Regions from separate parts of the Homo sapiens genome. Here regions 2, 3 and 4 are each linked to region 1. The links come from fine-mapping of genetic effects on gene expression. A gene starts in region 1. Each other region holds a variant in brackets. All regions are shown on one strand. Distances are from middle to middle. Region 1 holds the start of EFCC1 (EF-hand and coiled-coil domain containing 1). Region 2 overlaps CFAP92 (cilia and flagella associated protein 92 (putative)). Region 3 overlaps EFCC1 (EF-hand and coiled-coil domain containing 1). Region 4 overlaps EFCC1 (EF-hand and coiled-coil domain containing 1).

Region 1 (7,585 bases):
TACCACCAAGATTGTATTGCACAACCAGAATATGGAACCACTGCCCTGAGAGAGATGGTGTCTGGGTCAAGACCTAGGGCATCACAGGATGAAGTGAGGGCAAAGGTGTGCTACCCACTACTCAGGTATGAGACAGTGGTGGGTCTACAACCCTACCTCAGTGAAGATGGCTTCAGGGCTGGCAGATCAGAAGCAAAGGAAGGGGGGCTTCTGTTTCAGTTATCTGTTACTGAGTAAAAACCATCCCCAAACTTAATGGTGTCAAACAAACACTTGTTATTTCTCACCACTCCATGCATCAGCTGAGTAGTTCTCTGCTGGCCTCGCCTGGGCTCACTCCCTATGCTGTGCTCAGCTGGAGGACCAACATGGCTGGAAGCTGCCAGAAGTCCTCACTTGCATGTCTGGCAGTTGCTGCTGGCTCTTCGTGGGCCCGCTGGTTCCCCTCCATGGGTTCCCCCGCCCCCAGTGGTACACCAGCTTCCTTCTATGTGGTGCCTCATCTCCTCATAGCCCGGCCTGGCTTCCTCAGATGGCATTCTCAGAGCAGGGATCCCAGAGGGCAAAGAAGAAGTTGCAAGGCCTCTTGGGACCTAGGCGTGGAACCAGCACCATGTCACTCTGCTACATGCCATTAACCAAAGCAAGTCATGAGGCTGGCCCCACTTCAAGGGGATGAAGACATGGACTGTACATCTGGTAAGCAGAGGGACAAGCATCCAGGGGCAGGAGGTGTTCAAGGTCACTGAACAATCCATCCCTTCATCCTTACTCTGCCGGGTGGAGGGTTCCCAAGCTCCCACAGGCTATGTAGAGGCCTTCCTGAAGCTATCCCAAGACTCTGGCAGCTGGAAGCATATTGGGAATCAGCTACATACACCTTCTTCTTGCCCCTTCCCCATTTTTAACAGCTTTATTGAAGTATTTTTTATTTAATAAAATCCATCCATTTCAAGCGTAGAATTCAATGATTTTCAGTAACTTTACCTAGTGCTGTAATCATCATCATAAATTCATTTTAGAACATTTTCATCCCCCTAATAAGACTTCATGCACATTTATAATTAATCTCTGTTCCAACTCCCAGTCCTAGGCAACCATATCTACTTTGTTTCTAAAAATTGGCCTTTTCTAGACATTTCCTATAAATTGAGTCAGACACTGTGTTCTGGCTTTGTGACTGGTTTCTTTCACCTACCGTTATGTTTCCAAGGTTTATTTATGTTGAGGCATGTGTCAGTATTTCATTCCTTTTCATGACTGAATAATATTCTATTGTATGGACAGACCACAGTTTGCCTATCCATTCATCAGTTAATGGGCATTTGGCTTGGGCATTTAGACATTTATGAACAACGTTGCTATGAACATTCCCACACAAGTCTTTGTGTGGATGTGTTTTCATCTCTCTTGGGTCGATATCTAGGAGTGGAAGAGTTGGGTCGTATGGTCATTTTGTGATTAACTTCTTGAGAAACTGCCAAACTATCTTCCACAGGGGCTGCATCATTTTGTGTTCCCATCAACAACATGAAGTTTCCTGTTTCTCCAAATTCTTGACAAGATTTATTGCCTGTTTTATTCACTACAGCTATTCTCATGAGTATAATATAGTATTTCATCATAGTTTTCATGTGCATTTCCCTAACAAGAATACTGAGATTGTTTTATGCACATGTTGGCTATTTATACAACTTCTTTGGTGAAATGTCTGTTTGTATCTTCACCCACTTTTTGATTGGATTGTTTGTCTTCTTGTTACTGAGTTGTTAAGAGTTCATTGTAAATTCGGAATATAAGTCCTTTACTGGGCATATGTTTTACAAATATTTTCTCCTAGTCTCTTGTTCGTCATATTTTCTTAATAGTGTCTTTTGAAGTGCAAATGTTTTGAACTTTGATGAAGGTCCGATTCATCATTTTTTTCTTTTTTGGATCATGCATTTGGTGTCGTATCTAAGAAATCTTTGACTAACAACAGGCCTATTTTTAATAGAAGTAAAGCTTGGTGTCTGAACACTAAGCAAATCTACTAACCAAGACCCCTAAAAACCCAAAAGCTTTATGACACTGAAAATAATGGCCCAAGGACATTCCCAGACAGTTCTGGGCTCTGGATAGAACAACACAAGTTTCCAAAAAACAGGCTGATAATACCACAAGCTTATAAAATATGTATACTCCTTGGCCCAGTAATAAATCACTCAAGATATGGCACAAACTGTTCACAGTATGGTTTTTGCGGAGAAAAGCTGAAAACCACCTCAGTGGGCATCTGTGGGGGATGACAAAGCACCTTATAGTTCATCCCCAGGGAGCACAGAGCAGCCTCTGGAGCAGTGTCTGCAAAGAAACCACAGCCAAGCTGTTTACAAAGCTCAGTTCCTGTGCAAAGAAAGATCCCAATGGCGCCCTTTCCACTGTGCTTTTCATGTCAAGTTGAATGAGCTACGATTTGCACACTGTAAAATTCAGATGTACACAGTCATGCAACCACTACACCATGAAGATAGAGTATTTCAATCACTCCAAAAAGTTCTTTCATGCCCAAATACATAGAAAAGTCTGGAAATAAATACATCAGAAATACACAGTGATCCTCTCTTGGTGGCAGAATGGTGGATGATTTTTGCTTTTTAGCATTTTCCCGGACCTTTAAAAGACACTTTAAACAATATACTATTTGAAATGGCTCAAACAATACTGAACTGACTTCAGAAAATCATTTCTTTGCCACAGCCCTGACTCTCTCCCACACAGACACACGCCCATCCCCCCAGCTCATACAAAAGAACGCAAGGAGACCTCTGAGTTTGCTCACTTTGAACCTTAAACAAAAACCTTGTGGATGCAACCAGAATTATTTCAGAGGTGCCTGGTAACACCGCAGGGCAGACAGACAGGCCTGACAGCAAACCATTATCAACCCTTACTTCCCTGAGCTGTAGGGGAGTGGAGGCCGGCAACGGCTCCCAGCAAGACATTTAAAAGCTTTCTTTTCAATATTGACTGGCCCAGGAAAGCTACTGTTCAAAGGATTCCTTCACCAGCTGCAGGGATGGGGGGTGGGGAGGGTGTTGCACTCTTGCCTGGGCTACCAGCTCTTAGGGCTGACATGAAATAAAATCAGGTTCTTTTTTTTTTTTTTTTTTTTTTTTTGAGACGGAGTCTCGCTCTGTCGCCCAGGCTGGAGTGCAATGGCAGGATCTCAGCTTACTGCAACCTCCGCCTCCCAGGTTCAAGCGATTCATCTGCCTCAGCCTCCCAAGTAACTGGGATTACAGGCGCCTGCCACCACGCCCAGCTAACTTTTGGTATTTTTAGTAGAGATGGGGGTGGTTCACTATGTTGTCCAGGCTGTTCTCGAACTCTTGACCTCAGGCAATCCACCCGCCTCGGCCTCCCAAAGTGGTGGGATTACAGGCGTGAGCCACCGCGACCGGCCAAGAAAAAGAAACACATGAGAACATCTTAACAAAAGGGAAATACTGCAGTGTCTCCCATCTGCAGAAAGAACCACTGAATCCACTTATGAATCCCTCCATCTTCTTCTGTGCACTCACATACACATGTCCTAGTAGAAAATACTTAGTATTGTTTTGTGTGTTTTTGTTCTTGTTATGTAAGCATCAGTGTTGTGCATAATCAGCTTGTGGCTTGCTGTGTCCGCTCATCCTCGTTTGCTGAGTCCTAGCTGATTTGATGGACACCAGGTTGTCTCCAGTTTCTCACTGTAATAAACAATGATGCAGTGAACATCCTGTGCACAGTGGCTTTCGAAGGTAGAAGCCAAGAAGTGGACGTGATGTAAAAACTTTGTCAAATTGCCATTACTTTTATAATTAAAAACAAACCTAAAAGAATATGTCCAAAATGCTTGGGGAGAAGCCTCTAACTCCTTCCCAGCAGATATGTACTCTGGGCAAAGCCTTCAAGAACAAGTACGAATTTGCCAAATGGACAACGTGCTGATTCTGGGATACTGTGGCAGAGGAGACAGAATGCTATCGCTTTTCAAACGGCAAGATTTTACATTTAAACTCACAGAGTTATCCACAAGGCAAGATTCTGTCTCTGTCATAGCTAGGAACAGCTGAAGAGTCTGCCTCTTGCTCCAACATGGCTGGGTACCGTGGCTGGATAACCGTTCCCGGTGCAGGTAACAGGTGGACAATATCACAATATCACTGCACCCCTCTCGTGAAAAAGAAAGGGAACACAGTCTAGCACTCACCAGAGAAGCAGGTTTTTCTTCATCTTCCAGAAATGTGTTCTAAAACACCAGAAAAAAACATCAGCCAATCATCGACCTGTTAACCTAACCCCAGCTCAAGAGATGGAACTCGGATCCCATTGCCAAGTCAGCACCGGCAGGCACAAAGGTGGCAGGGCCGGGAGACACCACTTTCCCGAGAGTCCTATCCCCACCCCCAACAGGGATCGGGAGAGAGCAGTTAGCACAGGGCTCGTCTCAGATGGGCTTCTCACCAGCGGGGTGCCCCTAACCTAGACCCCTTGCCTCTCCAAGCCTGTTTCCCTCTCTTTCCCAGTTACTACTTGGGGCTCTTTGCACGGTCTATGGTGGCACAAGAAGTGGGTTCGGAAACCCAGTAGCTGAATTGAAGCGGAGGGGAGGCTTTTCCGCACCTACGGCTACAGGGCGGCGAGAGCAGGCTTGCCAGGCAACCCTCGAAAGGCCTTCCGGGAAGAGGGGGAAGAGTGACGCTTGGGTGTGGGGGCACATCCCCAGCAACCGGACGAGGCCGCCACCCCCAAGGCCCTCCTGGGCTTCGGATCCCGCGCCAACCCCTCGCCCAGGTCTCGGAGCGAACTCTCCGCGCCAGGCGGGCGGGGCGGAGGGAGGAGGGAGTTGAGAGTGGACGGCCGGGAGTGGGAGGAAAAGCGCAGACGCCAGGAACGCCCCGTGAGTGAGGAGAGGAGAGCGTGGGAGTCACGCGGAGAAGCCAGACCCAGACGCCGACCGGGCACTGGTGGCGCTGCCGGGGTCCCGGGGGTTCCTGGACCCCCTACCCCAGGCCCCTCCAAAGCAACTGGGGTAAACCAGACGCACTGTGAGGCCAGCGCAGCTGCTGGACACGGTCCCCGGCGCCGCTCCAACCAGACCGCGACCGCTAAGCCCCTCCTTTCGAGAAACTCTGGGGCCGCCCCTGGAAGTGGCGGGGCGAAGGGACCGGAGGAGGGACCGGAGGAGCGAGGCGCGCGGCGCAGCGATGGAGCCGGTCAGCACGGGCGCGGAGGCCGGCATGGAGGGCGCGGGAGGTGACCCGTACCGGCGACCTGCGCGGCGCACGCAGTGGCTGCTGAGCGCCCTGGCGCACCACTACGGGCTGGACCGCGGCGTGGAGAACGAGATCGTGGTGCTGGCCACCGGCCTGGACCAGTACCTGCAGGAGGTCTTCCACCACCTGGACTGCCGCGGCGCCGGCCGTCTGCCCCGCGCCGACTTCCGAGCGCTCTGCGCTGTGCTGGGGCTGCGCGCGGAGGGGGCCACCACGGCCGGGCAGGCAGCAGGTGACGGGAACTCCAGAGATGTGACCCCCGGGGATGCGGCCGCTGAGTTGGCCACGGACGGGGACTCAGATACCGATGAAGAGGCGCGCCTGGCGCTGCGCGCCGAGCCGCCGGAGCTCACCTTCCGCCAGTTCCACGCGCGCCTCTGTGGCTACTTCGGCACCCGTGCGGGGCCCCGGCTGCCCCGCGGCGCTCTCAGCGAGCACATCGAGACGCAGATCCGCCTGCGCCGTCCGCGCCGCCGCCGCCGCCCGCCCTGCGCGCCTGGCCCCGACAGCGGTCCTGACTGTGAGCGCGTTGCGCGGCTGGAGGAGGAGAATAGCAGCTTGCGCGAGTTGGTGGAGGACCTGCGCGCCGCGCTGCAGAGCAGTGATGCGCGCTGCCTAGCACTGCAGGTGCGCGCCGGCCACGAAGGGAGGGTGGTAACGCCCGGGAGAGGGCTCGAACTAAAAGCTGGCTGGCTGCGGAGCCCGACAGGACAGAGTCAGAGGAAGGGGAGACAGAGGGCAGCCCCACACCATCCCACTCCGCATCAGCACACTTGCATCTTGCCCCTGTTCCTCCCCATTCCACTCCAGTCCCCAACCCTATTCTTACCACCTATTCCATTCCTGAAAACCCCAATCACACTCAAACAACCATACCCCACTTTTCTGCTCCACCGCCACATCATCGCGTCTTGCCCCTTTAACCTAGGAATTGCACCTGTCTGGGTAGTCTCACATATTCCCTTTCAACAAGCATCTTTCTCTCTCCTTCCTGCCAGGCTTCTGGGAGGTTTAGGAGACAGAAGTGTGAAGAAGGCCCTGTCCTCACCTTTAGGGATATCCCTGCCTCCTGGGGTAGACTGACAGCTCCTTCTGTCAATCAGCAAAGACTTATGGGGCTCCCTGTGGGAGAAACAGAGACAAGTGAGAAACAGACAATGTGGCTCACACTGTGGATCAGGCACTCACGGGCCACCAAGTGCCTGCGGGAACCAGACCCGCTCTGGGCTATTGAGAAGAAACCATGGGGTGAGATAGGGACCCAGCCTTAGCATCTGGGAGCCGTCGACAAACACTTAAGCACTGTGCCAGCCGAGCACCAAGGGCAGTGCTGGGCCGCAGGGGTCAGAGGAGGAAAGGAACAGCCCCTACCCCAGGCGACAACAGGCCAGGAAGAAACTGACATTATATGACCCCGCCTTAGCTCAGGACACTGCAGAGTGCAGGGAAGTGGCAAGGTGTGGTTTTCAGTGTCAGTGTGCATGGAAGCCAGGGTGGAGGCGGGAAACTACTCCTCTGATGTGGAATCCCAAGTAACGTACTGGGAGCCATGGGATGCGCCTGAACGGTCTTCCGGCATCTCTCATGCTTGGTATTTATTGAGCACCTACTATGTGCCAGGTTTGTTTTAGGCTCTGGGAACACACCAGTAAAGACAGATAGAAACCACCCTCAAAAGCCTCTAGTGAGCAGGCACGGGGAGGGCTGGAAATGCCACTGGGGGGAGTCTAGGAGATGAGGAACCGCCACCCGGCAGGCTGAACGCCGCCAATACAGTAGGCCGAGAAGAGTCGCGAGGTTGGTACTATAGAGGGAACAGAATACAGGCGTCGTGTCTCAGTTTCCTTCAGTGAAAAAACGTTGGGGGGTGGGGGATGAGGAGGAATCAGAGCTTGGGCCTCCCTGGGGATGTGGCGAGGGTTAAAGGAGCTTGGACGCACCGGACCTAAGGGCCTGGCACCCGGAAGCAGACGGCGCAAGAAACGTGCTCAAGCGCTTCTGGGTGCAGAGGCATGGGGCCGCCGTCGTGGCGGGCGTTCGTCTGGTGCATCTGGCTGGGGCACTTACCCCCTGCCCCTGCTGCCCTGTCCCCGCAGGTCGGACTCTGGAAGAGCCAGGCGAGCACCCACGAGATGGGGCACGGCGGGCCGGAGGCTGCGGTGCGGGAGCTGCGTCAGGCGCAGGGCGCCCTGGCTGCGGCGGAGGCCCGCGCTGGGCGGCTGCGCCGTGGCCAGGCCGAGGTGCGGCGGCGCGCGGAGGAGGCCCGGCAGGTGGTGCTGCGCAGC
Region 2 (7,585 bases), 42 kb before region 1:
GAGTGCAGTGGCGTGATCTCGGCTCACTACAACCTCCACCTCCCAGCCGCCTGCCTTGGCCTCCCAAAGTGCCGAGATTGCAGCCTCTGCCCGGCCGCCACCCCGTCTGGGAAGTGAGGAGTGTCTCTGCCTGGCCGCCCATCGTCTGGGATGTGAGGAGCCCCTCTGCCCGGCCGCCCAGTCTGGGAAGTGAGGAGCGTCTCCGCCCGGCCGCCATCCCATCTAGGAAGTGAGGAGCGCCTCTTCCCAGCCGCCATCACATCTAGGAAGTGAGGAGCGTCTCTGCCCGGCCGCCCATCGTCTGAGATGTGGGGAGCGCCTCTGCCCCACCGCCCCATCTGGGATGTGAGGAGCGCCTCTGCCCGGCCGAGACCCCGTCTGGGAGGTGAGGAGCGTCTCTGCCCGGCCGCCCCGTCTGAGAAGTGAGGAGACCCTCTGCCTGGCAACCACCCCGTCTGAGAAGTGAGGAGCCCCTCCGCCCGGCAGCTGCCCCGTCTGAGAAGTGAGGAGCCTCTCCGCCCAGCAGCCACCCCATCTGGGAAGTGAGGAGCATCTCCGCCCGGCAGCCACCCTGTCCGGGAGGGAGGTGAGGGGGGGTCAGCCCCCCGCCCGGCCAGCCGCCCCATCCGGGAGGGAGGTGGGGGGTCAGCCCCCCGCCCGGCCAGCCGTGCCATCCGGGAGGGAGGTGGGGGGGTCAGCCCCCCGCCCGGCCAGCCGCCCGGTCCGGGAGGTGAGGGGCGCCTCTGCCCGGCCGCCCCTACTGGGAAGTGAGGAGCCCCTCTGCCCGGCCAGCCGCCCCGTCCGGGAGGGAGGTGGGGGGGTCAGCCCTCCGCCCGGCCAGCCGCCCCGTCTGGGAGGTGAGGGGCGCCTCTGCCCGGCCGCCCCTACTGGGAAGAGAGGAGCCCCTCTGCCCGGCCAGCCGCCCCGTCCGGGAGGGAGGTGGGGGGGTCGGCCCCCCGCCCGGCCAGCCGCCCCGTCCGGGAGGGAGGTGGGGGTGTCGGCCCCCCGCCCGGCCAGCCGCCCCGTCCGGGAGGGAGGTGGGGCGGTCAGCCCCCCTGCCCGGCCAGCCGCCCCGTCCGGGAGGTGAGGGGCGCCTCTGCCCGGCCACCCCTACTGGGAAGTGAGGAGCCCCTCTGCCCGGCCAGCCGCCCCGTCCGCGAGGGAGGTGGGGGGGTCAGCCCCCCGCCCGGCCAGCCGCCCCGTCCGGGAGGGAGGTGGGGGGGGTCAGCCCCCCTGCCCGGCCAGCCGCCCCGTCCGGGAGGGAGGTGGGGGGGGTCAGCCCCCCTGCCCGGCCAGCCGCCCCGTCCGGGAGGTGAGGGGCGCCTCTGCCCGGCCGCCCCTACTGGGAAGTGAGGAGCCCCTCTGCCCGGCCAGCTGCCCCGTCCGCGAGGGAGGTGGGGGGGTCAGCCCCCCCGCCCGGCCAGCCGCCCCGTCCGGGAGGGAGGTGGGGGGGGGTCAGCCCCCCTGCCCGGCCAGCCGCCCCGTCCGGGAGGTGAGGGGCGCCTCTGCCCGGCCGCCCCTACTGGGAAGTGAGGAGCCCCTCTGCCTGGCCAGCCGCCCCGTCCGGGAGGGAGGTGGGGGGGTCAGCCCCCCGACCGGCCAGCCGCCCCATCCGGGAGGGAGGTGGGGGGGTCAGCCCCCCGCCCGGCCAGCCGCCCCGCCCAGGAGGTGAGGGGCGCCTCTGCCCGGCCGCCCCTACTGGGAAGTGAGGAGCCCCTCTGCCCAGCCACCACCCCGTCTGGGAGGTGTGCCCAACAGCTCATTGAGAACGGGCCAGGATGACAATGGCGGCTTTGTGGAATAGAAAGGCGGGAAAGGTGGGGAAAAGATTGAGAAATCGGATGGTTGCCGTGTCTGTGTAGAAAGAAGTAGACATGGGAGACTTTTCATTTTGTTCTGCACTAAGAAAAATTCCTCTGCCTTGGGATCCTGTTGATCTGTGACCTTACCCCCAACCCTGTGCTCTCTGAAACATGTGCTGTGTCCACTCAGGGTTAAATGGATTAAGGGCGGTGCAAGATGTGCTTTGTTAAACAGATGCTTGAAGGCAGCATGCTCGTTAAGAGTCATCACCAATCCCTAATCTCAAGTAATCAGGGACACAAACACTGCGGAAGGCCGCAGGGTCCTCTGCCTAGGAAAACCAGAGACCTTTGTTCACTTGTTTATCTGCTGACCTTCCCTCCACTATTGTCCCATGACCCTGCCAAATCCCCCTCTGTGAGAAACACCCAAGAATTATCAATAAAAAAATAAATTAAAAAAAAAAATAAAAAAAAAATAAAAAAATAAAAAAAAAAAAAGAAAATAGAAAGAAAAAAAGAAATTACCCAATCTGAACAACACAGGGGAAAAAAGACACAAAAATCAAAATCAGAACTTCAGGGCCCTGTGGGACTAAAACAAAAGAACTAATATTCATGTCATTGGAGTTTCAGAAGGAGAGGAGAAAAAAGGTGGTGCTGAAAAGTATTCCAATAAATAATGGCTAAAATTTTCTCAAATTTGGCAAAATACATAAGCCTATAGATTCAAAGAGCTGAGAGAACCCCAAATAAGATAAACACAAAGAAATCCACACCAAGACATGTCATAGTCAAACTTCTGTAAATTAATGACAAAGAAAGAAAATCTTGAAAGCTGCAAGAGATAAATGCCACCTTACTTATAGGGAAAAAAAAGTAATTTGAATGACAGCAGATTTCCCATCAGAAACTGTAGTGGTAAGAAGAAAGTGGTATAACATTTTTCAAGTGTTAAAAAAAAAAATCCAGCCAGGCACAGTGGCTCACACCTGTAACCCCAGCACTTTGGGAGGCCGAGGTGCGTGCATCACCTGAGGTCAGGAGTTTGACACTAGCCTGGCTAACATGGTGAAATTCTGTCTCTACTAAAAATACAAAAATTAGCCAGGCATGGTGGTGCATGCTCATAATCCCAGCTACTCAGGAGGCTGAGGCAGGAGAATCACTTGAACCCAGGAGGCAGACGTTGCAGTGAGCCAACATCATGCCACTACACTCCAGCCTGGGTGACAGAGCCAGACTCTCTCAAAAAAAAAAAAAAAAAAAAGAAATCAACCCCATTCTATACCAATTCTATATCCAGTAAGACTATCCTTCCAGAATGAAGGAAAAATAAAAACACCCTGAGACAAAGAACAACTAAAAGAATTTGTTTTCAGCAGATTTATCCTAGAAGAAAGGCGAAAGGAAGTTCTTGAAACAGAAAGGAAATGACAAAAGAAGTCTTGGAACATTAGAAAGGAAGAAAGGATAATGGAATAAGTAGAACCACGGGTAAACAAATACACTTTCCTTCAACCCTTGAGTTTTCTAGGTTATGTGTTATGTTTGACAGTTGAAGCAAAAAGTATAACATCATCTCATGTGGTTATCAATCTATGTAGAGGAAATATTTAGGGAAACTAAAGGGGTATGGAGGGAGGTAAAGTTTCTATATTTCACTCAAACTGGTAAAATATTGATACCAAGAGATTGCGAAAAGTTATGTTATGCGTTAAATATAATATCCAGAGTGCCACTAAAAATCTATACCAAGAGATATAAATTCAAAAATACTACAGATAAATCAAAATGGAATTCTAAAAATGGGTCAAGTAACCCACAAGAAAGCAGGAATAAAAACCAAGAGAAACAAAAAAACAGAAGGAACAGACAGAAAACAAAAATTAAAATGGTAGACTTAAGCTCTAATATATCAACATTTACTCTAAATATAATGGTCTAAATACGTCAATTAAAAGGCAGAGTAAATAAAGAAACATGACCAAACTACATGCAAGGCCATTATCCTGGAGTGGGGGAGAAGGCCAGTCTCAAAAGGTCACATGCTGGATGTTTTCATTTATATAACCACACCAGTTTCCTACGAAGCGCCATAAACTGGGGGG[G/T]GGCTTAAAATGACAGAAATTTATTGTCTCCCTGTTCTGAGGCTAGAAGTCAGAAATTAAGCTGTTGGCAGGGCCACATTTCCTCAGAAGGTGCTCAGGAAGGTCCTTCCTTGCCTCTTCCAGCTTCTGGTGGCCCCAGATGTCCCCTGGCATGTGGCAGCATCCACTTTCCATGTGGCGTTCTCTGTGTGTCACTTTGCATAGTCTTCCCTCTACGTGTGTCTGTCTCTGGGTCCAATTTTCCCCCTTTCATAAGGATACCCTAATGACCTCATTTCAACTTGACTACCTCTGCAAAGACCCTCTTTCCAAATAAGATCACATTCTGAGATACTGGGCGTTAGGAGTTCAACATACCATTTTTTGGAGGAACACAATTCAATCCTTAACAATAACATTTTCAAATTGACAAAAGTATAGAGATAGCAAATTAGTGGTTAGGGATGGTGGGTGTTAGGGGTTGTTGTGACTATAAAAGGGTAGCACGAAGGAGATCTTTGTGATGATAGAATATTTCTACATCTCAAGTGCTGTGACAGTTACATACATGTACAATAAAATGGCACAGACCTATATACACATTAGACTCATGTCAATGTGCTGATTTTGATATTGTGCTATAGTTATGAAACACCTAATTACTGAGGAAATTGGACAAAGGATACATGGGACCTCTCTGTACTGTCTTTGCAACTTTCCGTGAATCTATATTTTAAAGTATGACATATGTATATGGACATACTCACACTAAGACACACAAGCAGTTTCAGAAGACAAAAAGGGCTGGCACTGTGGCTTACACCTATAATCCTAGCACTTTGGGAGGCCACGGCAGGAGGATCACTTGATCCCAGGAGTTCAGGACCAGCCTGCGCAACATGGCAAAACCCTGTCTCTACAAAAAATACAAAAACTAGCTGGGTGTGGTGGCGTGTGCCTGCAGTCTCAGCTACTAGGGAGGCTAAGGCAGGAGGATCACCTGAGCCCAGGAGGTTGAGGCTGCAGTAAGTTATGATCACACCACTGCACTCCAGACAGGGCAGTGGAGTGAGACCCTGTCTCAAAAAAATTTTTTTAAAAAAGGAGACAAGGTTGGACGCAGTGGCTGACACCTGTAATCCCAACACTTTGGGAGGCCAAGGCAGGTGGATCACCTGAGGTCAGGAGTTTGAGACCAGATTGACCAACATGGAGAAACCCTGTCTCTACTAAAAATACAAAATTAGCCGGGCGTGGTGGCAAATGCCTGTAATCCCAGCTACTCGGGAGGCTGAGGCAGAAGAATCGCTTGAACCCAGGAGGTGGAGGTTGTGGTGAGCTGAGATTGCACCCCTGCACTCCAGCCTGGGCAACAAGAGCAAAATTCTGCCTCAAATAAATAAATAAATAAAATAAAAAAGACGACAAAAAGGATTTTATAAGCATTTGGAGAAACAAAAAACAGTTCGCATACAAAGGTTCAACTTCAATGAAAATAAAAGATGATGGAACAATGCCTTCAAAACTCTGAAGGCAAATGATTTTTAGCCTAGAATTCTATATGCAGCCAAACTACCAGTCATGTGTAAGGATAAAAAAAGGTAGAAAAAAATATATCTGCAGACATATGAGATCTCAAAAATAAATCTCCCATTGACCTTTTCTCGAGAAGCTACTAGAGGATGCACTCCAGCAAAACCAGACAGCAAATAAAGGGAGAGAATTCAGGAGACAGGGATCCAACCAGAAGAGGGAACAAGGAACTCACAGAATAAACAGCAGTGCTGAACCTGGTTGGTTCACAATGAGTGAGCATCCCGCTGGCAACTGCCACAGGAAGAGGGAAGCCTGGGGGCTCCTGAAGGGAGGTTCATGACCTGCATGTGAAGAGCACCTGCGGCATAGTAGGAGACCTCAGGACTGGTCACACCTAATCCCAGGAACCCCATCTCTTTTGTATCTCACTGTGGGATCCTAAATGGTAAAATACAGGTGATAACTGTCAGGCCTCTGAGCCCAGGCCAGGCCATCACATCCCCTGTGACTTGCACGTATACATCCAGATGGCCTGAAGTAACTGAAGATCCACAAAAGAAATAAAAACAGCCTTAACTGATGACATTCCACCATTGTGATTTGTTCCCGCCCCACCCTAACTGATCAATGTACTTTGTAGTCTCCCCCACCCTTAAGAAGGTTCTTTGTAATTCTCCCCACTCTTGAGAATGTATTTTGTGAGATCCACCCCTGCCCACCAGAGAACAACCCCCTTTGACTGTAATTTTCCATTACCTTCCCAAATCCTATAAAACGGCCCCACTCCCTTCGCTGACTCTCTTTTCGGACTCAGCCCGCCTGCACCCAGGTGAAATAAACAGCCATGTTGCTCACACAAAGCCTGTTTGGTGGTCTCTTCACACGGACGCGCATGAAATGTGGTGCCGTGACTCGGATCGGGGGACCTCCCTTGGGAGATCAATCCCCCGTCCTCCTGCTCTTTGCTCCGTGAGAAAGATCCACCTCTATGACCTCAGGTCCTCAGACCGACCAGCCCAAGAAACATCTCACCAATTTCAAATCCGGTAAGCGGCCTCTTTTGACTCTCTTCTCCAACCTCCCTCACTATCCCTCAACCTCTTTCTCCTTTCAATCTTGGTGCCACACTTCAATCTCTCCCTTAATTTCAATTCCTTTCATTTTCTGGTAGAGACAAAAGAGACACGTTTTATCCGTGGACCCAAAACTCCGGCGCCGGTCACGGACTGGGAAGGCAGCCTTCCCTTGGTGTTTAATCATTGCAGGGACGCTCTCTGATTATACACCCACGTTTCAAGGGTGTCAGACCACGCAGGGACGCCTGCCTTGGTCCTTCACCCTTAGCGGCTAGTCCCGCTTTTCTGGGGAAGGGGCAAGTACCCGTGAACCCCTTCTCCTTCACCCTCAGCGGCAAGTCCCGCTTTCCTGGGGCAGGGGCAAGTACCCCTCAACCCCTTCTCCTTCACCCTCAGCGGCAAGTCCCACTTTCCTGGGGCAGGGGCAAGTACCCCTCAACCCCTTCTCCTTCACCCTTAGCGGCAAGTCCCGCTTTTCTAGGGGGCAAGAACCCCCAAACCCCTTCCCTCCGGGTCTCTATGCTCTCTTTTCTCTGGGTTTGCTTCCTTCACTATGGGCAACCTTCCACCCTCCATTCCTCCTCCTTCTCCCTTAGCCTGTGTGCTCAAGAACTTAAAACCTCTTCAACTCACACCTGACCTAAAACCTAAATGCCTTATTTTCTTCTGCAATGCCGCTTGACCCCAATACAAACTCAACAGTAGTTCCAAATAGCCAGAAAATGGCACTTTAAATTTTTCCATCCTGCAAGATCTAAATAATTCTTGTCGTAAAATAGGCAAACGGTCTGAGGTGCCTGACGTCCCGGCATTCTTTTACACATCAGTCCCTTCCTAGTCGCTGTGCCCAGGGCAACTCCTCCCAAATCTTCCTTCTTTCCCTCCCGCCTGTCCCCTCAGTCCCAACCCCAAGCATCACTGACTCTTTCTAATCTTCCTTTTCTACAGACCCATCTGACCTCTCCCCTCCTCACCAGGCCGAGCTAGGTCCCAATTCTTCCTCAGCCTCCGCTCCTCCACCCTATAATCCTTTTATCACCTCCCCTCCTCACACCTGGTCCTGCTTATGGTTTTCATTCCG
Region 3 (7,585 bases), 22 kb after region 1:
TGGAGTAGCTCTGACAACAACCTCATGGGCTTCAAAGCCTGAAGTATTTACTCTCTGGCCCTTTATGGCATAAGTATGCCAGCCCTGAGTCAAATGACAATGTGCTGGTCATTGGTGACCAGCAATTCCAACCTTGGGATTCCTCATGTATTCTGAGCAGGGGACTGGGCAGGGGCAGGGATGGACTCTCTCACCTCTTGTTCCCACACGCCTTCCTGCCCTTCAGGCAGTCCCTCCCCGGTGATTTCTCTGTATCTTCTTGTTGGGATGTGTTCTTGCGAAGTGAGTCTTTCGGGTCTGTTTGCACCCCATTGGCGGCGTTGTGGCACATGTCTCACTGTGCCTCTGACTCCCCACTCGGCGCTGGAGTTCCCACCCCAAATGTTGTTCTGCGAGTGCATCTTCTGGCTGCTTTTCCCCTCTGCAAACTCCTCCATCCACTCCCAGGGGTGGACACTAGGCTGCCTCCAACTGCCTGCCACTCCAGATGACACCAAGTGCGTGTCCTCCCCCACACCACCGTGCAGCAGCCTGCTGTGAGAACTGTCCCAGGAGAGGGGTTGCTGGGTCTTGTGGAGACACATAAATGATTTGACCAAGTGATGCCAGCTGGCCCCAGTGTGTTCTTTGATGTAATCAGGTTCACCAAATTCTTTTGGCTTTATGATTTTTGCCTTTGAATTCTTGAGTGGTCCTCCGTTCCTAGGTCACAAGGGTATTCTGCTGGATATTCTTTTGTTTTAATTGTATCTTTTAGGTGTTCAGTCCACCTGGAGTCTACCCTTTTGGGTGATGAAGACAGGGACCCAGCTTTAAGTTTGTCCTGGGTAGGTTTAGGTTTAGCGAGGGCTGGCTACCTTCACTCACATGGGATTTAGAAGCCCAGTCAGTCCACTCATCAGTGTTTGTCTTAGTGGTTTGCTCATCAGTCCAATAATTCCTTTGAGGATGTGAGACCGCAGCAGGACCCTCACTTGTATATATTTTGTGTTTATATAAACAGTCACATTCTAGATTCATATAATTGTAGTACAAACAAGAGAGAACTACAGTTCTGGGAAAAATGACTGTAAACTATTTAACTTTTAATATAAGTTGTAGATCAGCACTGTCCAACTGGACTTTATGAGATGATGGAAACGCTTTCTGGCTGCACTGGTAGCTGTGAGCCACAGGTAGCTACTGAGCACTTGATGTAGCTAGCATAACTGAGGAACTGAATTCTTAGTTTTATTTAACTTTGATTAAATTTACTTTTTTTTTTTTTTTTTTTTTGAGACTGAGTTTCGCTCTTGTTGCCCAGGCTGGAGTGCAATGGTATGATCTCAGCTCACTGCAACCTCCACCTCCCAGATTCAAGCGATTCTCCTGCCTCAGCCTCCCAAGTAGCTGGGACTATAGGTACCCACCACCACGCCCGGCTAATTTTTGTATTTTTAGTAGAGACAGGTTTTCACCATGTTGGCCAGGCTGGTCTCGAACTCCTGACCTCAGGTGATCCACCTACCTCAGCCTCCCAAAGTGCTGGGATTACAGGTATGAGCCATCGCAACCAGCCTGATTAAATTTAAATAGCTACATGTGACTGTGGTTACCATATTGGACGATGCAGGCCAGATTAAAACACTAGGACAGCACTGCAGAAATTTATGCATTTATTTGAGGTTTTAGGGGGTAAAATGAGAAACAGAAAAGGAAAGATGAACAAGCAGGAAGCTGTAAACAGAGTGTGGGAGTTAATATTTGTTAAGTGCCTACTCTGTGCCAGGCACATACATCCCTAATTTAGCCCTGACTTGCACCCTATGAGCTTGGGTGACTTACTCCCATTTAAAAGATTGGGAAGGCTGGACAGATGGCCCACACCTGTAATCCCAGCATTTTGGGAGGCCGAGATGGGTGAATCACTTGAGCCCAGGAGTTCAAGATCAACCTGGGCAACATAGTGAGACTCCATCTCTACAAAAAATACAAAAATTGGCTGAGCATGGTGGCCTGCACCTGTGGTCCCAGCTACTGAGGAGGCTGAGGTGGGAGGATCACTTGAGCCTGGGAGGTTGAGGCTGCAGTGAGCTGAGATCACGCCACTGCATTCCAGCCTGGGCAACAGAGTAACACCCTGTCTCAATAAATAAATAATAAAATGATGGGAAAGTTGAGTCTCAAAGAGGTGAAAGACTTGGTAAGGCACGCTTATTGGAGTGGCTGGCCCAGGATTAAACAGACACAGGCCAGATGCCCTTCTCAAAAGGCTCTGTGAGCCCAGAGGCTCCAGGGGAGGGAGCCAGGAAGGTTACAGGCTGGCTGGGCACTTGCAGACGGGAACCCTGGACACCACCCTTCTGAAGGCTGGGGCATGGTCCAGTGTGCTGACCTGGCAGCCTCCAAGTCCAAACCCACAGGGGTGGGCACCTCGTAGTCCCAGGGTGAGGCTGCCGTGGCCAGTGGGATGTAAGGCCTCATGAGAGCTGGGAGGGGTCTGGAACAGGGCATCTCCTTGGGAGCAGTATCTCCCCCAGGACTTTCTGGAAATTCGTGGGGAGGAGGGTTTGCCTCAGTGACTGGAAGGGTGGTGCTCCTGACACATGAGGGGCCCTGCCAGGGAAACAAGGCTCTGGGCAGATCCTGTATGACCAAGCATCACCCCAAACCCCACATGAGCTCCATGTGTCCTGCTGGACATTTATGCTGCGCAAACCTCACTTTCGTCATGATGATCTGAGACTGGAGCCCACCTCTGTCTTATATATAAACACAGGGTTTTCCACAAGGTTTTAATATACAAAGGGTTTTCCAAGAATCCGATGCTGTGTGAGTTGAGGGAAGGTCACACTTTGTTTTGTTTGGCATTTTCCAAGAGTTGCTCATCATTTCAGAGGCACATCAAAGACAGTGACAAAACTCATGGTGCTTAAGCTGCTGGCAGGGAATGCCTGGCCTGTAGTCCCAGCTACTGGGGAGGCTCAGGCAGGAGAATCGCTTGAACCCGGGAGGCGGAGGTTGTGGTGAGACTAGATCATGCCATTGCACTCCAGCCTGGGCAACAAGATTGAAACTCCGTCTCAAAAAACAAACAAACAAACAAAAAACACTGGCAGTCCTTATGCTTGTACTGTGAGTCTGCGCGGGTATCTGTCTATTTATCAATCCATCTATCAATCTGGATATTTTAAAATGCCAAATATAGGGAAAGATTATCAACAACATTCAGTTGAATGTTACCTTGCCCCTCTTAAATTCAAATGTATCCATCACAGACAGGTTAAAGTATCTGAAAATTTCATTGTTTGTGAGTATTTACATATTGAAATGTATATCATAAAACTCCTTTCCTTTTCTTTCTCTTTTAAATTACCATTAGGGCATCACATTAATTTTTTTTTGAAGTACATCTGAAAATAGGGCATATTACGTATTCAGCTCATTTTGGAATAGCACAGGGCCATTGTAGAAAGAGGGCGTCAGTGTGTTAGGGTTGGGGTCCTCTGCTGTGAGGGGCAGAGGTGGCCGGGGCAGGCGCAGAGCTCTGCTCTCACAGCACCCAGAACTCACCGTGTGCTGGTGTCTAAGCATTTACCAAGCTTCAGATCCTCTAGGATCAATGTCATTTTTTTGTCATATCTATATAGAACCTGTATTATTTTCAAATATTACCAGGGGCAGGAGCTCCACAAAGTTTAGAAGGACCATGTCATTTCATTTCATCCTCATAGGACCGCCAGGCCCAGCTAGCACAGAGTCCCCAGCAGTGTTGACTGATTAATCAATGAGGAAAATGAAATAGAGGCTCAGAGACGGGGAGGGAGTTGTGCAGGTCACACAGCAAAGCCACAGTCCTGAGGGTGGAACCCAGGTTTGCGGCTCCTCAGATCCACCTCTTTGCATCACAGAACTGAAGGAGGGGTCTGTTACATGAAGATCTGGAGCCAGGAGCCAGGAGTGGCCAGGACAGCGGAAGGGAGGAAGAGCAACATCTGGCCCTTGTCAGATTGTATAAGCCCCTGGGCTGGCGGCCAGATGTGGCCATCAGCCTCCAGCAGGAGGAAGACATCAGAGGCTCACCCGGCCTCCGGATGCTGTGCAGATGTGGCCAGCTGGAGGGAACACCCAACCGCACACAAGGACTCTGGGGTCTGCCAGGAAGTGAGGGTGTGAGGGGAGGGTGGGTGGCTACTGGGGCCTGCCTTTCCCCAGAACTGCCTGGAGCCCTGACAGAGGTGCTTCAGTAATGCCTGTTGAGTGACAAGTGTCTCTGCAGCTCACAGAAGGCCCCCAGACCATTTCCCCCATGGCTCCCGAAAGACAGTGGCCCAGAAGTGCGGCAGGCAGGGGTGAATGTGGGAGTCGCGGGCC[G/A]GAAAGCACAGGGCAGGGAGGTTGGGCCTTTGCCATACTTTTCCAGCACCGGTTCCCAAGCTGTGGTTTGGAGCTGAGAAGTCTCCAACTTCTCCTCACAGTTGCTAGCCTCTCTTGAATGGACAGAGAACAGCCTCGGGTTCAGAGGCAGACAGAAAATAAGATCTAGCTAGAACTGACTAACTGTGTTTCATTCTTGCTTTATGTATTTTTAGGGTGTTAAAAGGAAAACTTTAGACATATTAAATTTAACAGAGTTTATCTGAGTAAAGAACAAGTCATGAATTGGGCAGCTGTCAGGGACAGCAGAGGTTTGGGGAGCTCAGCCTGCTATTTGTTACAAATATATGCTTCTAAATTAGAGTTTGATTTCTTCACATACTAAGTTCGGCTTCAGATCATCACTCAAAGTACAGAGACAGCCTCAGGCTAATGGCCTCTTGCTTCTTTTTTTTTTTTTTTTTGAGACAGAGTCTTGAGTCTTGCTCAGTCACCCAGGCTAGAGTGCAGGCTAGAGCGCAGTGGTGCGATCTTGGCTCACTGCAAGCTCTGCCTCCTGGGTTCACGGCATTCTCCTGCCTCAGCCTCCCGAGTAGCTGGGACTACAGGCGCCCGCCACCATGCCTGGCTAATTTTGGTTTTGTATTTTTAGTAGAGACGAGGTTTCACCATGTTAGCCAGGATGGTCTCGACCTCCTGACCTCATGATCCACCCGCCTCGGCCTCCCAAAGTGCTGGGATTACAGGCGTGAGCCACCGCGCCTGGCCACCTCTTGATTCTTAAATTTAACAATGGTTACTATTTATGGCAAGAGATGCTGGGTTTTCATTATTGGTTATAATATTTACCACTACATAAAATATGTATTAGTAAATAAAAGGACAAATGACCAAAAATGTCTGCAGCTTAGGAATCTGCATTATCCTATCACGTAGGGTCCACCCCTCTCTGAGGTGCACAGAGGGCTTAGCCCCATTCCACAGGACAAAGCTGATAGGAACTGGGAATGGTAGGACTCAACCCATGTCTTGTGGCTCCAGATCTAGTGCTCTTCCTTCTCTGTCCTTTCTGGAACAATCCAAGAGCAGGTGAATAGGTGATAGGAGTAAACTGGATGCTTACCCAGGCTCTGGTCTTGTCCCTGGCCTGGCCTTTCCTTGCACTTCCACCCCTAAATCCCATTCATTCATTTGACAAACCTTCATTGGGCCACTCAGTCCCTGTGCTAACTGTCCTCAAGGAAATCCCAGTCTGGTGAGAGAGAAACACCATAACACACCACACGAGGGCTCTAGGAGCCAGGAGAGGTGTCTTATTCATATTTATTTGTTCTGCTGTAACAGAATACCACAGACTGGGTAATTTATAAAGAAAAGAAATTTGGGGCTGGGTCTAGTGGCTCACACCTGTAATCCCAGCACCTTTGGAAAGCCGAGTCAGGCAGATCACTTGAGGCCAGGAGTTCAAGACCCGCCTGGCCAACATGGTAAAACCCTTTCTCTACTAAAAATACAAAATTAGCCAGGCATGGTTGCACACACCTGTAGTCCCAACTACTCGGGAGGCTGAGGCAGGAGAATCACTTGAACCTGAGAGGCAGAGGTTGCAGTGAGCCGAGATTGCACCACTGCACTCCAGCCTGGGTGACAGAGCAAGACTCCGTCGCAAAAAAAAAGAAAAAAAAAAAGAAAAAGAAAAACAGAAATTTAGCTAAGGGTTCTGGAGGCTGGGAAGTAAAGGGCATGTCACATCTGGCCATAGGCTTCTTGGTGCACCGTTCCAGGGAAGAAGGTAGAAGAACAAAAGAGGGAGAGAGGGAGACAAACGCATTCCTGTATCTGGAGCCCACTCCTGCAGTAATGGTGTGGATCCACTCGTGAGGGCAGAGCTCTCATGGCCTGATCACCTCTTCAAGGCCCCACCTCTCTACACTGTTGCATTGGGGATTAGGTTTCCAACACGTGAACTTTGGGGGACACATTCAAACCATAGCAGAGGGAGAGGTGAGTTCTGAGAAAGTGACATTTTTGTTGGGGTGGGAGAACGAAGAACCAGGAGGATTTTCTGGGCACTACTTGCTGGAGCCAAACCCAGCGGCCACTCTTTGGGTGGTCAAGTGGGTGATGGCACACTTCACTGAGGGAGGGAGGAGCAGATGGAGGAAGACCAGGACAAGTCCAGGTGGCATGAGAGGCTGTGAGAAGCCTGTGGGACATCCAAATAGAGGTGCCACAGTTAAGTTCGGGCGCTTGTCAGGAACTGGATCTGAGCCCGAGGTTCAAGAGAGAGGCCAGAGCTGGAGATAAGAAGTAGGAAGTCATGGGCACGCAAAGCCATGGCGTTGGCTGAGACTCCTCCTAGAGCGAGTGCACACTGAGGAGAGAAGAGGTCCTCAGAGGGCATCCCAGGGCTCACCGGCATTAGGGGTCGGGACGGAGAGGCAAAATGGCGAAGAGTGCCAGGGAGGCAGGAGGAATCCCAGAGGAGAGCAGTCTCCCGGAAGCCACGGGAAGAGTGTGTAAGCGAGGGAGGAATCTGATGTCCAATCCTTTCTCTTTAGGCCAAGTCAAATGCGTGCTGAGAACTGGCCATTGGGCTTGGCAGCCCAGTGCCGTGGGTGATGTGACGGGGACCAAGACATGATTGGGGCAGCATGTGTAGTAGGCACAGTGCTTTCAAGTTTTCTGTCAAGTAGGGCAGAGTAAGGGTGGTAGCTGGGAAAGTCATATGGTCAGAGGATGTTTTGTGTATTTGCTTGTTTGAAGGTGGAGCTATTATAGCATGTGAGTGTGATGAGGGGTGGCTGATCTGCTGAATAATCCAGCAGAGAGAGGGGCAATGGGAGAAGCAGTTGAATACTGGTCACTAGACAACAGTAGCACACCCCAGGGCTCCCTGAGGAAGCACTTGTTCCATTTCTCTGTAGCCACATTTTACTTCTTGGAAAATTCCAAAGAGTGTCCTCATCTGTCCTGCTCTCCAGATGGCTCTGTTCTCTTCCCAGCTTCACTGCCTGTGACCTGGAGTTACCCACTGACAACGGCAGCTGGGCCGGGTCATTCCAGAGCCTGCCTTCCAAGCTTCCCTTGTGCCTGGCATGTGGGCCTGGAGCCTCCCGCCTGAGTGCAGACCCCACCTCTCCCGCGGTGCGGCTCCAGCAGCTTCCTCCAGCTCTTAGTGCTTTGGTTTCCTCCTCTGTAAATGGAGATAATGACCTTACCTGTTATAGGG
Region 4 (7,585 bases), 36 kb after region 1:
GTGAGCTATCATCACACCACTGCACTCCAGCTTGGGTGACAGAGCGAGACCCTGTCTCTAAAAAAAAAAAGAAAAAGAAAAGAAAGAGAAGAAAAAGAGAGCATTTCTCCCCATGTCCCTGTGTAAAGTCCCAGGAAGGGGCTCTGACTGGCCAGCTTCACTCCTGGGCTGGTCACATTACAAGGAGACAGAACCAGCCTTGGTGGCCTCACTGCACAGGAGCCTGGGATGTGGGGGTGGCTGTCTCAAGAGGGGACATGGCACAAGAGCCCTCCCCTGGGGCTGCGCTGCACATGTCCCCCTGGGGAGGGATGCCTGGTTCCCCACCCTTTGTCCTGCATCCCCACATCCTGTGCTTCCCCAGCAGTGGACGAGCAGCTGTTCCGCTCCGTGGAGGGCCAGGCCGCCTCTGACGAGGAGGAGGTGGAGGAGGAGAGGTGGCAGGAGGAGAAGAAGACGCCGGCAGCCGAGGCCAAGACACTGCTGGCCCGGCTCTCCAGCTGCAGAGGCAGGTGTGTGGCCCGTCCAGCGTCAGCCACTGTGGGCCGCAGGCTCCAGAGGTGTCTGGGGAAGCCAGGAGCACCTGGGAGGCTGGTTAGCCTGGCTCAGCCACCTCCCAGCCCCTCTGCGACTCTGTCCCCTTGTCCCTCAGGGGGAGGTGGGAAGGCCCACCAGCATGTAGAGGATGAAGTGGGATGACCTTCCAGGGCACATCTCGTGGCTGGCTTTAATTCCCATTCGTGCTTTCTCACCAGCACCTGCACTGGAGCTCTTGTAGCACTCCCAGACACCAGTGTTCCTCTCAGACCCTTTCCCAACCCATCACCCCTCGCCACACACCATTTCCACAGCTCTCCAGCCTGGCCCCGGGCAGGTGCTGGCTCCCTGTTTCATCCTCACCTCCACCCCCATGGGGACCGAGGACAGGCCCAGGACACCTGGGACACCTCAGACAAGTCACCTGGCTTCTCCGAACCTCAGTCTTCTTGTCTCTAAGATGGGATGGTGACACTTGTGTGGCAGAGGCTGTGTGAGGATTTGAGGTCAAAGATATACAATGCCTAACAGGTGCCTGGTGCACAGTAGGTGGGAACGCCGGTGGGGGCAACAGTTATTAATGTATGGTAAAATGCTGTTGATTTTCTGGGGTTGTTTTTACCACCAATTCTTCATGTCAACAAGCACTTATAAAGCACCTACTACATGCCAGGCAAAATCTGAGGCACAGGGAAAATCGCAGTAAACCAGACAGTGGCCTCTTCTTCTGGATCCTCTAGTGAGTGTGACAGGCCTGAGGAAGAGGGGTCACACAGGGACAGGGACAGAGGCGGGGCAGGGAGATGCAGGGAAGGAAATGAGGGAATAAGCAATGCAGATGCTGGGGGAAGAGCATTCCAGGAAGAGGGAAGAGCAAGTGCAGAGGCCCTGAGGCATGTTGGCGGGACCGCCAGGAGGCCACTGTGGCTGGAGCAGTGTGAGTGCAGGTGGGTGGGAGGGAAGGTCAGAGAGCTCATGGGGCAGATCAGGTGAAGCCTTTGCCTTTTCCTCAGAGTGAGATGGGGGCCATGGGAGGGTACTGGGCAGGCAGGTGCCGTGGCCTGGCTTTGCTTTAGGAGGCCAACTCCACACCACCACCACCTCTCCAAGGCTGGACAGAGCGGGCTCTGGGAAGCAGCCCCCTGCAATGCGGGCCCTCTCCTTTGCTGCAGGTGTGATGACCAGACGGCGGAGAAGCTCATGACTTACTTTGGTCACTTCGGCGGTGCCAACCATGCCCATACCCTGGGGGAGCTGGAGGCCTGCATTGCCATGCTGGTGGAGCAGCTGAGGACTCAGGGCTGCGGTGGGAGGACCCTGGGGACCTCTGAGGAGGAGGTCAGCAGAGCCTAGAGATCAAAGGCTGGAGCAATTCTAGAGGATCTCACAGCTGGAAGGGTCTGAGGGATTGCAGCCAAGTCTTGTGCCTCATTCCCAGATGAGTAAACCAAGGCCCAGAGGGAGGTGATTTCCTCTGATTTAAATTTAATAAGAAATATTTTGGTTGCAAATTAAAGGATCCCACCTCAAATTAGCTTGATTGCAAAACAGATATTGGAACATGGAGCTGAGAAGAAGATGGTCTGGGCTTCAGGCACAGCTGGGTCCAGGGACTCAGACCAGATTGTCTCCATCTATCTGCTGTGTTTTTCTGTAGGAGGTGGCCTCACTTTCCCCTAGTTCAAAAGGGCTTACTCCATATGATGGGGGAAGGGAAGACAGGACCATGAACAGCCCTAGACTTCCATCAGCCCACCTGGGAAGCCCTCACAGGAAAATGAGTCTCATTCCTAGTACATGAAATCTCAGGGAGGAACTCCGATTGGCCACCTCAGTCATGTGCCCGTCCCTGGGCCAATCCCTGTGGTGGTGGGGCGGGTTCAGTGATTGGCACTGCCACCAAAGTCAGATGAAGTGGAGCAGGGGCAGTTTCCCAAAAGAAAGGAAGTGTGGTAGGAAGAAGAGGGAAAGGGGGGCCGAGCATCCAGCTGTCTCCATTTCAATACGACCACTTCGCATTTCTCATTCTCTCTACTCCATAGGAAAGTCTCTATTCCACAGTAGCCAAGTGTGCAATGCTGTTGAAAGTTGTCATTTCACTAAGCCCTAGCCCACTGTGCTTTTACAAACTGGTTTTGACATAGTTTTATATTTATACATCTGAAATTCTAAGTCTGTACTGCTTTTTACTTATATATGGCCTGATGAAGTCCTAGTTCCTTAAATAACTTTTTAAAAATGATACCAGCTGACTTGTACAACCCATGAACCACACGCTCGGTGCTGATGTGCTCTGTCTTATTTTATGTTCAAAGGGCCCAATGAGGTAGGAAACAGTTTGAGAGAGGTCAAATGGGCTGGGCTGGGAGCCCATGCCGCATCCACGCCAGTGTGCCCACCTTGAACCAAGGCAGCCACACCACTCCACCCTGAGGCCAGGGGTTGAGTCACTGGGGGCAGGAGGGAGCAGAGGGGCCTGTTTGGGCTCCAGCCTCTTAGTGCATGAAATCAGAGACCAAGACAGAAGGTAGCAGGCCCTGGAGCGCTGCAGTAGATTGGACAAAGACCAGGACTATGCAAACATTCTGCTGAAATGTGCAAAAGGAAACAAAGTTGAATGTCATTACAGGGCAAGCCAGTGTGGCTGCAGCTAAACCTTCCAGTGAGATCGGGTCTGCACCACCTCCAGCTTCTGGAACCCTTGCACCGGGATAGGGCCACCCCTCACTTACTCCCCAGAGAAGGCTGCTAACACCAAGTAGCATGGCATGGCGGTTATGTGCTGAAGCCAGACTGCCGGGATTCAAATCCTGACTCCATTTCCTGTGTGACCTTGGAAAAGTTACTCAACTTTTCTGTGCCTCGGTTTCCTCACCTGTGAAATGGGCATAATAATGGTACTATACACATGTATCAAACAGGTGAACACTTGTGGTGAGTGCTCAGCAAACA[T/G]GCGCCACGGCTGTCCCTGTTTCTAGCACTCTTCTGTGTTGTGCAGGTCTCCTAAGTTGAAAGTTGTTTCTACATTTTCTCCACCACCGCTCTGGTTTCCTGGAGGCCTTGATCTTGCCTGCCCAGGCACCCCTCAGGAAAGTCATAGCCCTGTGGCTGGGGAGGGTGGAGTGTTGTGGGCCATCAGGAAATAAACTGGCAGTCACAAAGTTCTGAAGGGCATAGCCACCCCTTTTCTAAGAATATTTAAAGGAAACAGGGCTTGGAGGATCCTAAAATTAGCTGGCCTTCCAGTCACATCCCTAAAGAGCAGAGGCACTGGGCCTTCCCTCTTCCTGCCCAAGCCCAGGGTGGACCCTGAGTGCCCTCAGGCACCACACTTTCCACTGCTTCTCTTTCCCTCCATTGGTGCCAGGGGAAGGGAATGCCTCGTGCCTGGCATGCCTGCTTTAGAAGGCAGGGGCCACAAAACACTTTGTGACTGCCTGGCATCCTAGTGTTACTGGGTACAACTGACGGTTTAGGTGGCCCCCTGGCCAAGAGTGGGCCCAAGACTCCGACTGGGCCAACCACGCCCCTCTCCTGGGGCTCTCCATGCTGGGGGATGGGGATGGCTGGAGAGGGTCTTTCTCGGCTGTGGCTCTTGGATAAGAGGCTTGGGACACTCCCACTGTCTCAACCCTGTCCCATTCCTGAGGTTCTCCAGCTGCTAGTCCATTCTGGGATCTGCCCACTAGCCTGCCATAAATTTCCTCTCTGTGTAAGCTAGCCAGATTGGCTTCTGCAGCTTCCCACTAAACTTAATTTGTTTGAAAGAAACAAAACCAGAGAAGAGAAGGGAGAATGGAGTCCTTAGAGTGGGAAACAAAATATACAACTCTTACATCAGTCCAACCCGCTGTGTGGCTTTAGGCCACACACTCAGCTTCTCTGGGCCTCAGCACCAGCCTCGGGGAGATGGAGTAGTTGATCCTGCCACCTGGAAGGCTGGGAGAGGCCAGCAAAGTGAGCACTGAGCCCCTTCTCTTCCCAGGCAGAGTTGCAGCAGAAGGTGGAAGAGAATGAGCACCTGAGGCTGGAGCTGCAGATGGTAGAGACCGAGAGGGTGCGGCTGTCCCTGCTGGAGGAGAAGCTGGTGGACGTGCTGCAGCTCCTGCAGAGGCTCCGGGACCTGGTAGGCTCACGGGAGAGCTGCCACACTCAGGGAAGGGAAAGGAGCTCTTGGGAGGGAGCCCCACTTGTGTCAGGCACCAGGCTCTAGGCTCTCCTTACAGTAGGCAGCTGTTATCCCATTTTACAGATGCAGAAATGGAGGCTCAGAAGAACCAACCAAAAATAGGGTTGGGGGGCTCCCCAGGTCATTTTAAGAAGCTAATAAAACTCTTGTATGTATCCTTTTCTGGTTCTGTTCTCAAAACCAGAAAAGGATAAATGGAAGAAAGACAAGAAAGGAAAATTATAAACTAATGTGACATTTAAACATGGATGCAAAATTATTAAATACAATACTAGCAAACCAAATCTGGCAGTGTTTAAAGAAATGCAACATGACCAAGTTGGACTTATCCTACAAATTCAAGGATGATTCCACATCAAAAAATCTATTACCAAAATACACCACATTGCAGATTAAAGGAGAAAGACCAAATGATCATCTCAATTGATGCAGAAAAGGAAGTCAATAAAATTCAATCTCCTTTGATTATAAAACCCCTCAGCAAATTAAGAATAGTAGGGATCTTCCTTCACCAGATAAGGGCTCTCAACCAAATACTTCATGCAGATCTCACACTGACTGGTGACGTGTTCAGAGGAATCCCCCTAAAATCAGATGTGGCTGGGCCTGGTGGTGCATGCCTGTAATCCCAGCACTTTGGGAGGCCTAGGTGGGTGGATCGCTTGAGCTCAGGAGTTCGAGACCAGCCTGGCCAATATGGTGAAACCCCCACCTCTACAAAAAAAAAAAAAAAATTAGCTGGGCATGGTGGTGTATGCCTGTGGTCCCAGCTACTTGGGAGGCTGAGGTGGGAGGATTGCCAAAGTCCAGGAGGCAAAAGTTGCAGTGAGCTGAGATTGTGCCACTGCACTCCAGCCTGGGTGACAGAGTAAGACCTTATCTCAAAAAAAAAAAAAATTAAAATTAAAATCAGACTCAAGACAAGAATGCCTGTCATCACTGTTTTCATGTGAAGCAGAGGTTCCATCCAGTGCAGCAAAAGGAAAGAGAAAGGCTATAAGGACTAGAAAGAAAGCAAGACCCAGGTCTGTGGGGCTCTGAAGTGGGCTGTGCCCTGTGCATTGGGCTGCCTGGGACCCAGAGCTGCCGAGGTCCAGCCCAATGTCCACGTCCTAGGCAAGCAGAGACCTGGGGATGGGCCCCAAGAGGCCAATCCTAGCCCAGGCAGGCAAGGGCAGTGGTTCCCAGCAGAGGCCATAGGCCATGCAGCCTCACGGTAGATGATGCAGCCCCTCCACCTCCCAGCTGGGTGGCTTTGGCAAATTTCGCATTCTTTCCCAGCATTGCTTTTTTCTGCTGGTTAAAATGGGCATAATAAAATAAGTTGTTGCAAAAATCAAATGAGCAAATGCATTAAAATGCTCTTAGGGTTATTTCTCAGTGTCTACCTGGGCACAGATGGTAATCCTTAGGTACGTGATCTTTGATGGCATGGATCCTGCCCACTGCCCCACTCGCCCTCCAAGAGTCTCTGGGAAGTGCAGTGTGGCCAGCCTAGGGGTAGGGGGCCAAGAAGCGATGAGGGTGGGGGAGGAGCTTTATCTGTCCCCAGGGAGCTGCCTAGAAGCCCGTAGGGGCCACCAGTTCCCATCGGCTGAACAGGGACACAGCAACCAGTCTAATCCAGCCTTGTTTCCATTTCTTTTTAAGAACATATCGAAAAGAGCCCTGGGGAAGATTTTGCTGAGCACGCTGGACGCTTTCAGGGACCCCACCCACGGTAGGAGAGCACCCTAGTCTCTCAGAGCCCACGCAGTGGCTGGAGGGTGTCCTGAGGAGGAGACTCCAGTGTGCTTCATGCTTAGCATCTTGTCTGCAAAACAATCATGTTATTCCTGCCCTGCATGCTTTAGAAAGCTGAAGGGGCTTTTAGCAAGAGCAGAGGCACAGAAGCCCCAGGCAGAAGTGCCAGACAGAAGCCCAGTGAGGGGATGGGTGGGCGCCACCGGCAGCACTGCAGCCACATGCGGGGGAGGTGCCCCAAGGGTTTTTAAACCCCTGAATCCTTACAATGGCCCTAGAAGGAATGAGTTGTTATCCCCTTTCCACAGAGGAAGAGACTGAGGCACAGGGGTCAAGTGCTGGCCACGCCCGAGGCTGGGGCATCTCCCTTAAGCACTCAATAACATGGACCCGGTGTTTAGACGAAGCTCAGGGAGCAGAACAGCAGGAATGCCAGCTTATGCCTGGGGCAGCCAGGCCGAGCTCCTGCCTCACGGGTCTTCACAGGCTGACAAGGCAACCAAGAGCCCTTTGCTCGCTGTCCTCCCCAGGCACCACTGGGCAGAGCTCAGATGCACCCACTGCCCTGAGCAGTCCCTGCCCTCATGGAGGAGATCAGAAATTGTGTGCTCCAAGTCCCCTCTCCAGGGTCCTCAGGGGGAGGTGGTCCACAGAGCGAGGAAGCTGGGCAGGGCTGGGGAGGGGCACAGCGGGTAAGAGTGGCTGGGTCTCAGGAAGGAGGGACAGTGGCTCTGTGGGTGAAGGTGAGCAGACTGATCCTGCCCTCCCTGCCTGCTGTTTCCCTCCAGAGGGAAGGCCCAGCCCTGCAGCCATCCTGGATGCCCTGCACCAAGCCTTGGCTGCCTGCCAGCTGTTGCGGAGACAGCCCTCGGCACCAGCCTCTGCAGCAGCTGCGCTCACCAACCCCCTCCTCGTCTCCTGCTGAGGTTACTGGCCCACCCTGTGGGCACCCTGCTCAGCCTGACTGCCTTTGGACCAGCCTCCATGATCAGCCCAACCACTGACAGCTGGTCTGACCACCGTCACATCATCAGAACTTGAGTCTCTGCTGGCTCCTTCCAAGGTTAAGCCCGAGCCCAGAGCCTCCCATTGCAGCACCTGGCAGCCACCCCTTCC

The links. PIP is the estimated chance that this variant, and not a neighbour inherited with it, causes the effect.
Region 2: its variant is the best candidate, but not a certain one, in a credible set for the expression of EFCC1 in whole blood (TOPMed, PIP 0.53).
Region 3: its variant is the best candidate, but not a certain one, in a credible set for the expression of EFCC1 in left ventricle (GTEx, PIP 0.90).
Region 4: its variant is the best candidate, but not a certain one, in a credible set for the expression of EFCC1 in breast (GTEx, PIP 0.75).

The regions. Positions count from the first base shown.
Region 1 is chr3:128,996,398-129,003,982 of GRCh38, forward strand. It overlaps EFCC1 (EF-hand and coiled-coil domain containing 1), which reads left to right and starts at 4,907. Exons shown (of 8, transcript NM_001377500.1): 1 at 4,907-5,927; 2 at 7,397-7,585. The coding sequence starts at 5,232. It also overlaps a transcript of CFAP92 not described here.
Region 2 is chr3:128,953,926-128,961,510 of GRCh38, forward strand. The region is part of intron 9 of CFAP92 (cilia and flagella associated protein 92 (putative)); the gene reads right to left. Among named protein-coding and RNA genes, the nearest start is that of CFAP92, 36 kb to the right of the region's middle. The variant G/T (reference allele first, on the strand shown) is at 3,914.
Region 3 is chr3:129,018,511-129,026,095 of GRCh38, forward strand. All of the region lies in intron 2 of EFCC1 (EF-hand and coiled-coil domain containing 1), which reads left to right. It also overlaps a transcript of CFAP92 not described here. Among named protein-coding and RNA genes, the nearest start is that of EFCC1, 21 kb to the left of the region's middle. The variant G/A (reference allele first, on the strand shown) is at 4,354.
Region 4 is chr3:129,032,455-129,040,039 of GRCh38, forward strand. EFCC1 (EF-hand and coiled-coil domain containing 1) reads left to right here. Exons shown (of 8, transcript NM_001377500.1): 4 at 365-512; 5 at 1,710-1,875; 6 at 4,523-4,663; 7 at 6,377-6,446; 8 at 7,258-7,585. The coding sequence ends at 7,394. Among named protein-coding and RNA genes, the nearest start is that of GP9, 25 kb to the right of the region's middle. RefSeq lists enhancers at 1,078-1,632, 5,690-6,665, 6,666-7,585. The variant T/G (reference allele first, on the strand shown) is at 3,490.